Linked DNA regions of Homo sapiens. The protein of the gene in region 2 purifies or fractionates together with the protein of the main gene of each other region. This does not show direct contact. Each region holds a gene or a part of one and is shown on either strand. Other genes may lie near its edges. The genes, in order: HSPG2, EOLA1 and KCTD3.

Region 1 (3,653 bases), on a different chromosome or scaffold from region 2:
GGGGGCCTCCCACCCTGGGTCCCCAGCCCTGCCCTCCCTGAGAGCTACTCACCAGGCACTGAGCCCGCAGGCTCAATGGTGACCAGGACAGAGGCCTCTAGAGGCACGGAGCTGCCCAACACTCGGCACACGTACTCGCCCGAGTCGGCGGGGGACGCTTGGTAGAGTCTCAGCAGGGAGCCGTGGGTCTGGCCAGAATGGGGGTGAGTCAGAGGGAGCCCTCAGGAGACCCCTGTTCCTATAACCTGCAACCCTGCCTCACTCTGACCCCCAAGGCCTGGCCATCAGCTCTGGATCAGTTTCCCTGTCCTTCACATGGGGAAGGGGGACTCTTGTCCAGCAGCGGGGTGGTAGACCAGAGGAGCCCCAGTGAGCTGGGTACACACTCACACCACATCCCATCAATTCTAGACACACATTTCGATGTCTCCAAAATCAAGATGCATCTACAATGAATAACCTTACAAATAGAAGCTTTTTCTTAGAGGTACATAAAATCATAGCGGATCTCGCAATCAGTGGTATCCTAAATTCTACAAAATATGGTAACAACAATAGCTAATGGCATTATAGTAAAATATTAACAGCTTAGAGTACTTTCTGTGAGCCTAAGCTCTGAGGATTTTGCATATATTTTAATCTTTAAGATAATTCTGTGAGGTACTTTTTTTTTTTTTTTTGAGACTGAGTCTCGCTCTGTTGCCCAGGCTGGAGTGCAATGGCGTGATCTTGGCTCACTGCAGCCTCCGCCTCCTGGGTTCAAGCGATTCTCCTGCCTCAGCTTCCCGAGTAGCTGGGATTACAGGCGCCTGCCACTATGCCCGGCTAATTTTTATATTTTTAATAGAGATGGGGTTTCACCATACTGGCCAGGCTGGTCTCGAACTCCCGACCTCAGGCGATTCGCCCACCTCGGCCTCCCAAAGTGCTGGGATTACAGGCGTAAGCCACCGTGCCCGGCTGGTACGTACCATTGTTACCATTTTATAGGCCCTGAAACTATAGCACAGAGAGGTTAAGTAACTTGTCCGAGGTCACAAGCTAAGTGGTGGAGCCAGAATTCACACCCAGGTTAGTCAGTCCTAGATTCTGGTTTCTAACCACTGCACTATACATCTGTGCAATGGGGTCCAGGGCTTCCTGATCTCAGGGGAGCCTCTAGCCCTCCCCCAATAACCTCCGCCACCCAGGGACCCGCTTCCTCTTCTTGGCCTGTCTGTCCTCCAGTCCCATACCTGGTGCCGGACAGGGAGGCTGCCCCCACGCTTGTGCCACGTGACCTGGGCATGGGACTGCCCGGGCACCACGCAGTTCAGATCCAGGGTCTGCCCTTCCGCCACTTGCGAGGAGGAGGGCTCGATGCGGATGGGCTGGGTGCTGCCGGCAGCTGAGGGATAAGATGGTCACCGGTCACTCCTGTTCTCTGAAGCCACTCCAGCCTGTTCTCTGCATCCCAGCCCAGCCTGGTGGCCCCACTCACGGTAGGCTAAGTTGGCCCCCTGGGTCCCAGTTACTGTGACCGTGATGGAGGCCTCCATGCCGTTGCTGGCCCGGCAGACGTACTGTCCCGCATCGGCAGGTGAGGCCTGGAAGATGTACAGGCGGGAGCCACGAACCTGGGCAGCCGTGGGCAGAGGTGTGAGGGGGGCTTCCCGGAGGCCAGCAAATGCCCCACCGCTGTCCCCCCGATCTAGGAAGTGCCAGCCCCTCAGCCTAGGGGCCAGGATCCTGCAACCCACTGTCCATGGCCCCGTCCCACATTCTTGGTGCCCTGTACCTGGTGCCGGGCAGGGAGGCTGCCCCCACGCTTGTACCATGTGACCTGGGCGTGGGCCTGCCCTGCCACCACGCAGCTCAGATCCAGGGTCTGGCCCTCGGCCACTGTGGAGGATGAAGACTCGATCCTGACAGGTGGGATGGGTCCTGCAGCAGTGGGGATGGGAGTGAGAGTTGTAGATGCTCCTGAGATGAGAGGGCAGGGGTTGCCCACCCTGCAGCTAGCTCAGCCCAGGGTTTCAAGGCCAGATCCAGCTTTTCAGGCATCTGGGGGCCTGGACTTGATGCCCTCAGCTCAGCAACCCTGATGGGAGGACCAGGGCATGGGCCACGCCTTGCAGAGGGGAGTGAGGAAGTGAGAGAGATGAGGGCAGAGATGAGTTGGAGAGAGGAAGAGGAGGTGGGAGGGGACGCCTGAGGAGTCATGTGGCCAAAGCAAAGTGTGACGGGAAGGCGGTGGTTACTCTGACAGGTGGAGTCGGCCTGGGCAGGGCCCTGCAGCCAGCTCCGGTGTGGGCCTTCTGCCCTGTCAGCAAGAGGGGTCCCTTGGATCTCACCACCCCGGAGGCCTCTCTGCCTCCTCCAGCTTTCCATGTCACTGGGAGTCACTCACCAGGGATGACAGAGGCTTCGATGGTGACCAGGACTGAGGCCTCTAGGGGGCCGGAGGTGCCCACCACATGGCACACATACTCGCCTGAGTCGGCCGGGGTCACCTGGTGCAGCCGCAGCAGCGAGCCGTGGGTCTGTGTGCAAATGGGGTGGGTTGGGAGGGGGCTGGAACAGTCCCATCCAGCCCCTCCAGCAAGGTGGTCCCGGGGGGCTGCCATACCTGGTGCCGGGCAGGGAGGCTGCCCCCACGCTTGTGCCACGTGACCTGGGCGTGGGCCTGCCCGGGCACCACGCAGTTCAGATCCAGGGTCTGCCCTTCCGCCACGTGTGAGGAGGAGGGCTCGATGCGGATGGGCCGGGTGCTGCCGGGCACTGGACACAGAGCGGCTGCTCAGAGGCCTGAACTCTTGGGCTGTAACCTGTAGCCCTGGGGCAGAAGGCTCTGGGCTGTGACCAGGCCCTAGTGGGGACGGCCGACAGGTGGCCTTTCTGGGACTAGGGCCACACCCTTCTGCCTCCACATGGCCAGCCGAATATGGCTTCTTCCCTCCCCAGCCTCTAACCACAAGCTGGAGGCCCATTGACCCACCCATGACTTCTTGATGATGAGCTCCTCTGGCCCATAGGGAACCAGCAAGCTTTACTACCCAGGCTGCGCCCAAGGATGCGGATGACAGTGAGACACCTCCCTTCTACAGGACGTCTTCCGTGTGCTCACAAGTACTTTCCATAGACACTGTCTCATTTAAACCACACCATGACTGGCCAGGCGCGGTGGCTCATGCCTATAATCCCAGCACTTTGGGAGGCTGAGACGGTCGGATCACGAGGTCAGGAGATCGAGACCATCCTGGCTAACACGGTGAAACCCCGTCTCTACTAAAAAAAATACAAAAAATTAGCCGGCCTGGTGGCGGGTGTGCCTGTAGTCCTAGCTACTCAGAAGGCTGAGGCAGGAGAATGGTGTGAACCCGGAAGGCGGAGCTTGCAGTGAGCCGAGATCACGCGCCACTGCACTCCAGCCTGGGTGACAGAGCGAGACTCTCTCTCAAAAAAATAAAATAAAATAAAATAAAATAAAATAAAATAAAATAAAATAATAAAAAAACCACACCATGACCAAGCAGGTGGGCAGTACTGCTCCATTTCATAGATGAATCTGAGGCCCCAAAAGTTAAAAGCTAGTTCAAGGTTGCTAAGGGGCAGATCTGGGATTTGAACCAGGTCAGCCGACTCCCAGCTTAGTATTCAACCTGGACATTCTG
Region 2 (2,563 bases):
GTTGCAGATTGGAAGGGCACCAGCCACTGCCTGGGAAGCTACAGGTGATGCCTGAGCAGGTCACCAGGGGACAGATGCTGATGTCGGGCCTCAGTCACCTAGAGGTTAGGGGACTTTCCCAGGGTGCTGTGAGTGGTGGGGCTGGGGCAGGTTCATGAAGCCAGGCGGGCAGCCCAACTCTAGAGGCCACCTGACCCATTCGGCGGGCTGGGCTGCTTTTCATGGTCTCTGCCACACATGTGCACTCACACATGTATGTGCAAATACACACAGCCAAACACCACAAACACCATGTGCACATGGCCCTGACCAGGCTTCTCACTGAGATCAGAAACAGGAACTGAGGCCCAGAGTGGAGAAATGATTTACCAGAACTCGTGGAAGCCAGCCATACCAACCCCCAGCCCAAGGTCCTTGCCGCCCCTTTGAAGGTGTGTTGCCAAAGGAAACTGTGTTATACACGCCAATCAGTTCAGATGACAAGAGAAGCCCCCAAATTCCCAAGCAAGATCTTGGGCAGCAGCCCTAGGCGTTGTCTGCGCATTTGGTACATTGTCACTTACCCGCTATCACTCCTCGACCAAACTTTTCCCCTTTCCTGAGCAAGGCCTGAATCTGAGCAGGAGTCATCCCGAGTCTCTCCACCAGCAGCTCCCGCCAGGCATCGCCTTCCCAGTCCCTGTGAGCAATGTGGACGGCGATGGTACAGTTCCGCTGGCTGCTCAGCAGGGGACGCCAGCGCGTCTCCACAGTCTTGATTCCATTTAAGACAAAGCCAGCATAAGGCTGCCGGAAGGAGAGGCAGCCAAACTTCATCTTCGCAAGCGCCCCGGGCCTCCCGTAGCCTGCGGAAGCACAGAAGCGCATCACACGCCAGCCCTCCAAGCTCATGGGCAGTGGCCTGACCTTCCCCCCGTGTCTCTCAGGTGGCCTAAATCGCACTGACCTTGATGGTCTCCTGCTTCCGTCTGTCACTGATGTCCAGCACCACAGCAGGCCCAAGGGAAGGGGCTGGGATTCGGCTGACTCAGGTCCATCCCATGGAGTCTTTGGGGCGGTCCGGAGTAGGGCGGGGACAGCTAGAGGAAGGCACAGGCAGGATACCATGTGGTCAGTGCTATGACAGAGGTCACCGAGCCCTAGGGCAACACAGAGGACAGAGGGCCCCCTTGGCCTAGCCAGAGTGGAGAGTCCGGGCTGGTGTTAGCCCTCTTCCAGCACAGAGGGAGAGTCCCACCCTCTGCTTCTCTTCCCTTTCCCCTGCTGTGCCCTGCCAATACTCTCAGTGCCCTGGCCCTGCCGCCACCAAGGCACTGACCTTCCCAGCTCCTACTCCAGGGCTGCTGAGCCCACATCGTTGATATCCAATCTCAGCTCTGTCCTCAGGATGCACCGTGACCTCAGATGGCCCTCAGTCAGACATCTCCTCTCCACCCCTCTGGGTGCCACCTTCCTCAAGCCCCTTCCCCTACCACTGCTCTCCACTGTCAGCAGATGCCCCTGTCCCAATCTGAGCTGAGAAAAGAAGAATGATAATCAGAACAACTAGCAACCCCACACACATGCCTTCCACGTGCCAGCCTCTGGGATGGCATGATCCTCGGATCATCAAATTGAATCTTCAAGTAACCCAGCAGGGTCAGTGGTACTGTGAGGCCCACTCTATGGCTGAGGAGAATGAGGCACCAGCCCACAGTCACACGGGCTCTGACTTCCCACAACTCTTGCCCAGCCTCCTGCGTGTCTGGCTTGGGAGAGGGTCCCCTCCTCTTGCATGGAGGACGGCCCTGTGCCTTGGAAGGAACCCTGGGCTCGAAACCAGAACCTCAGCCCAGTCATAGACTCTTGAGATGCCTCAGTTTCCACATGGCTGTGAGGAAGGGAGATAAGGCACCAAGAGCACCCAGCCCAGTACGTGGCACCTAATAGAACAGTCAGAAATAGTGGCTGCCCTCACCCCTCAGGCCCGTGGCCCCGCCCCCGGCCCTGAACTCCACCCTTGAGCTGCCCCTACTCCTCTCTCTGTCCTTCCTTTCAACACATAAACGCAACCTCTAGTACGCTCTATGATTTTAAGAAAATATACCCACCCTCATGAGACAAAGCCCTGATAGGGCCAAAGCTGCCTGGTATTCACTCCTTTCCCAGTCTGCACTGCAGCCTTCTGAGCTCCAGATCTCCTGCTTTTCTCCCGCCTCTGGGGTGAGCTGCCTCAGCTGAGCCGGTTGCCTGCTGTGCTCTGGACCCTGCTCCTCTGGCTCACTCCGGGCCCTGGGTGCCACCAGCCACCATCTATGCTCGCTCAGCATCCCTACTCTGAGCACACGCGCGCCTCCCACTCTGCCTCCCTTCTCTACAACCCTGAACAGCCGAGACCTCAGAAGAGCTGTCTACATGCGCAGTCTCTACTTCCTCTCTGAACCTTCTGCCCCCACCCCCACCTTTCTCCCTTTATTCCCCACCCCCCCCACCACCCACTCCACTGACTGACCTATCCCCACAAGCACCCATGGCCGGCCTCATGCCAGTCCTGTCTTCATCTTAGTCCATGCTCAGCAGCCCC
Region 3 (3,653 bases), on a different chromosome or scaffold from region 2:
TAAACTATATCTGTAAACTTTAGAAGACATTTTAGATATTTTTCAGCTTATTGTGACTATTTTTCTTAACCGAACTCAACAGTGATAAACAAATAGTTTATGTATCTTTGATTTTTCTGCAATTAAATGAAATAATAATCTAAGCTAGTATATTCCAACCACTTTTGTGCTTCTACACCATTCTCTGTCATCAACATTTCTCAATGAGTACAGTGATTTTGAACTAAGAGTCCTATCACTTTCCCAATTAAAAAAAAAAAAATCACCGGTCTACACTATTCTTCATTGCTTCTCAGGCTCTGAGAATGTAAGCATTAGTAAAACCAAACTACTTCTTTGTAAGTTTCACATATTAGATATTAAACTATACCACTTGTGCAATAACTGTCCTGCTTTACTACCTCACTTCCCAAAATGTGGTATTTATGACCAATGTACTCTCCCTTGCTATAGAATACAAAACACTGAATCATTAGAGATAGACCATCAGGGAGCTCACATTAATAATCCTGTCTAACATCATTATATACTACAGTCTCAGAAGCTAGGTATAAGCAATAAATAATACATCAGGATATCTCAGTTACATGACAATTCACACTTGTCTGCTAAATGTTTACAACAGATAAAGGCTATCAGAAACATTTACCAAATTAGCTGTGAAAATAAAAGTACACTAAATCTTAATCAGATGATACAGACATGGGTAAAATATGCAGGGAAAAAACTTGATGACTAAAAAAAAATAGCTTTTCAATCTAAAAATATAAAATCACAATTAATTTTCAAACTGCCACCTGTAAAAGCAAAGCATTATTAATTATACACTACCTGTAACACACAGCAAAATGGGCATATGCAGCTACAATCCAGTTGTGATGGCCAGCTACTATTAGCACCTTTCGTGGATCCACAGGAAATCCTGTTGATTTTGGAAAAAGAAATATTTTACATTCTAAACCGGGGGTTGGCAAATTACAGCCACCAGGCCAGTTTCAGCCTTCTGCCTGTTTTGGTTAATAGTTTTGTTAAGAGCCGGGCACAGTGGCTCACACCTGTAATCCCAGCACTTTGGGAGGCCGAGGCGGGCGGATCATGAGGTCAGGGGATCGAGACCATACTGGCTAACACGGTGAAACCTCATCTCTATTAAAAATACAAAAAATTAGTCTGGCATGGTGGCGGCCGCCTGTAGTCCCAGCTACTCCGGAGGCTGAGGCAGGAGAATGGCGTAAACCCAGGAGGCAGAGCTTGCAGTGAGCCAAGATGGCACCACTGCACTCCAGCCTGAGCGACAGAGCGAGACTCCGTCTCAAAAAAAAAAAAAAAAATAGTTTTGTTAGAACCCAGCCATGCTTACTTGTTACATATTGTCCATTATGTGTTCATGCTACAATGGCAAAGTTGAGTAGGTCTGACAGAGAACACGTGGCCCACAAAGCCTAAAATATTTAATCTCTGGCTCTTACCAGATAAATTTTGGCAACCCTGTTCTAAAGATTCAGAGAAGATAGAAGATTACACAACATTTTAAATAAAAATTAAGTGTTAAATGAGACCTTTCCAAGATATAAATGATAAATCTGGATAAAAAAGGAGATGAGGCAAAAATCTTTAAAAGTAATTACTCAATATCACCCAGCACTAAAAACATACGTATTTTTCTTTTTCTATTTCTGTAATCTTTGCTTACCTAGCCTAACAGTTTCTTCTCCCGTTCCAGAGAGAACAGGCTGTGTACCATTTCCCCGGGCTTCACCTTCTGTAGAATTTAGACCATTCCTAGAATCAGCAGATCTGACTGTGTTGTTTATTTTACGACTAGGAATACCTATAAAGAGAAGAAGAAAACAAATACATTCCTAAGTTCACCTTTCAAAAATTAAAAATATCACATTGTGACAAAGAAACAAAAATGTGAATTTCATTAAAGCCGAAATACATCTTCCAATATAGCAAATTATTACAAATAATTTAATTACAATTAAAAAATAAAATGAAAATGAAAAAAACAAAGACAAAGACAAAATTCTGTCAACAGATTTCTGGTATTGTCATACTGTTTACAATAAATAAGCTTTAGGTTACTGAATTAATGGGTAATTAATTCAGTCTGCCAGCCACTCTTTACAATTATGGTACAGGTATTATGTGTTAGGTACTATGTAATAATTTAACTGCTTTAGAACTGAAATTCCCCATACTTTCAAACATTTTTTATTTGACAGGGGAACATTTTTTAAAATGAAATCTTGCTCAGAAGTCCATTATAACACAGGTAAAATCAGGCTCTTCTAACTAAAGTGGGGCTGAGGTGACACTGACTTATCTCTGCAGAATTCCTTAAATTTTGCAAAAAAGCAGTTTGACAACCAGTGCTCTAACATATGGGTCAGCAAACTATGGGCCATGGAAAATCCAGCCCAATCAATGCTATTTATGTAAATAAAGTTGTAGTGGTTACAGTTAAACCTAGTCTTCATGTAGTATACACAGCGGAGTTAAGTGGCTGTCACAGAGATCCTCTGGCTCACAAAATCTATCTGGCTCTTTACAGAAAAAGTTTGCCAAACCCCTGCTCCAATATATAATGTGACTTAATTTCTATAAAAATCAAAAGTTCTTACCATTTCTAATAGATTTATAGACAAAAAACTCAATAATCAAGGAGCAGTTTTTCCTATTCATATGCTTGTACTTGCTTAATGATACAAGGAATTTTTTAAAAGATTTAATAAAGTGAAAATACCTGGTGGGGGCAAGTAACCATGAAAAAGGACACTGCCACAAGAGGAACGCTCCAATTCTTCACATAAGAGAAGCCTTCTTACTAAAAACATTTCAAAGCAAACTTGTCAAGAGTACATGCAAACAGAAAAACAGTACTCCATTTTTATTTTCTCTAGTTCAAGAGGATAAGGAAAGAAAAGGAAAATTTTAATTAAGTCAGAGTTGACAACATCTTTTTACTATGAAAATCCACAAAAACTAAGCACTGAACAAGTCCATCAAAAATTAGGACCTGATATAAACACATTTCATTTAGGGCAACTTTCATACATGAGTCAAATCATAAACACCAAATATTAAAAGAGCACATACCTAATGGAGTGATCCCGTAAAATTCTGCTTCATGCCTGAGAACATTAATACTCACTCCCCTACAAAGAAACAAATGATGTAAATTCTCTAACACTGGAAACCTGTATTATCATCTGACATGAAAGGAAAAAATTCTAGGTTCTTCATGTATATAGTCATAAGGCTTTAAAAATTATTTTCCTCCTAATACTCTTTATTTCTATTATCCTTAATCATTAAAAAGTGTAAATAAAAACTGCATGTGAACAAAAATATTCTGTTATCTACTTAAAAACCATTCATATATATACATATATATGAATTGGGTCACTAAAGGAGAGATTAGGGCTCTATCAGGCTAGTACAAATAAATTGTCTAGAAGGCAAACGATAGAATGGAAACCATTCTTTTATGGCATTAGTTGCTTTTAACTTTTTATCGCAATTATTTCTATACATATCTATCTTAATCTCCCCAATTACACTATAAATTCCCTGCGAGCATGATCTATTTCTGATCTATGTTTGTATACCTCACAGTGCCTAGCATAGTGCTTGTATAAAATAGTTAT

The links.
Region 1: the proteins of EOLA1 (region 2) and HSPG2 purify together in Homo sapiens (co-immunoprecipitation; one large-scale study listed by IntAct). This does not show direct contact.
Region 3: the proteins of EOLA1 (region 2) and KCTD3 purify together in Homo sapiens (co-immunoprecipitation; one large-scale study listed by IntAct). This does not show direct contact.

Annotation. Positions count from the first base shown.
Region 1 is NC_000001.11:21,850,311-21,853,963, forward strand, and holds part of HSPG2 (basement membrane-specific heparan sulfate proteoglycan core protein isoform b precursor), read right to left. Parts: intron 2,761-3,653; coding exon 2,609-2,760; intron 2,523-2,608; coding exon 2,390-2,522; intron 1,924-2,389; coding exon 1,778-1,923; intron 1,617-1,777; coding exon 1,481-1,616; intron 1,388-1,480; coding exon 1,236-1,387; intron 189-1,235; coding exon 53-188; intron 1-52. UniProt on the Homo sapiens protein: Integral component of basement membranes. Component of the glomerular basement membrane (GBM), responsible for the fixed negative electrostatic membrane charge, and which provides a barrier which is both size- and charge-selective.
Region 2 is NC_000023.11:149,543,884-149,546,446, reverse strand, and holds part of EOLA1 (protein EOLA1), read right to left. Parts: exon of another isoform or gene 1,356-2,563; coding exon of another isoform or gene 1,319-1,355; intron 1,080-1,318; coding exon of another isoform or gene 947-1,079; intron 846-946; coding exon of another isoform or gene 817-845; coding exon 564-816; intron 1-563. UniProt on the Homo sapiens protein: May play a role in cell protection during the inflammatory response. In epithelial cells, negatively regulates IL6 production and apoptosis through the regulation of MT2A expression.
Region 3 is NC_000001.11:215,577,178-215,580,830, reverse strand, and holds part of KCTD3 (BTB/POZ domain-containing protein KCTD3), read right to left. Parts: intron 3,162-3,653; coding exon 3,103-3,161; intron 2,903-3,102; exon of another isoform or gene 2,841-2,902; coding exon of another isoform or gene 2,831-2,840; coding exon 2,750-2,830; intron 1,832-2,749; coding exon 1,694-1,831; intron 923-1,693; coding exon 832-922; intron 1-831. UniProt on the Homo sapiens protein: Accessory subunit of potassium/sodium hyperpolarization-activated cyclic nucleotide-gated channel 3 (HCN3) up-regulating its cell-surface expression and current density without affecting its voltage dependence and kinetics.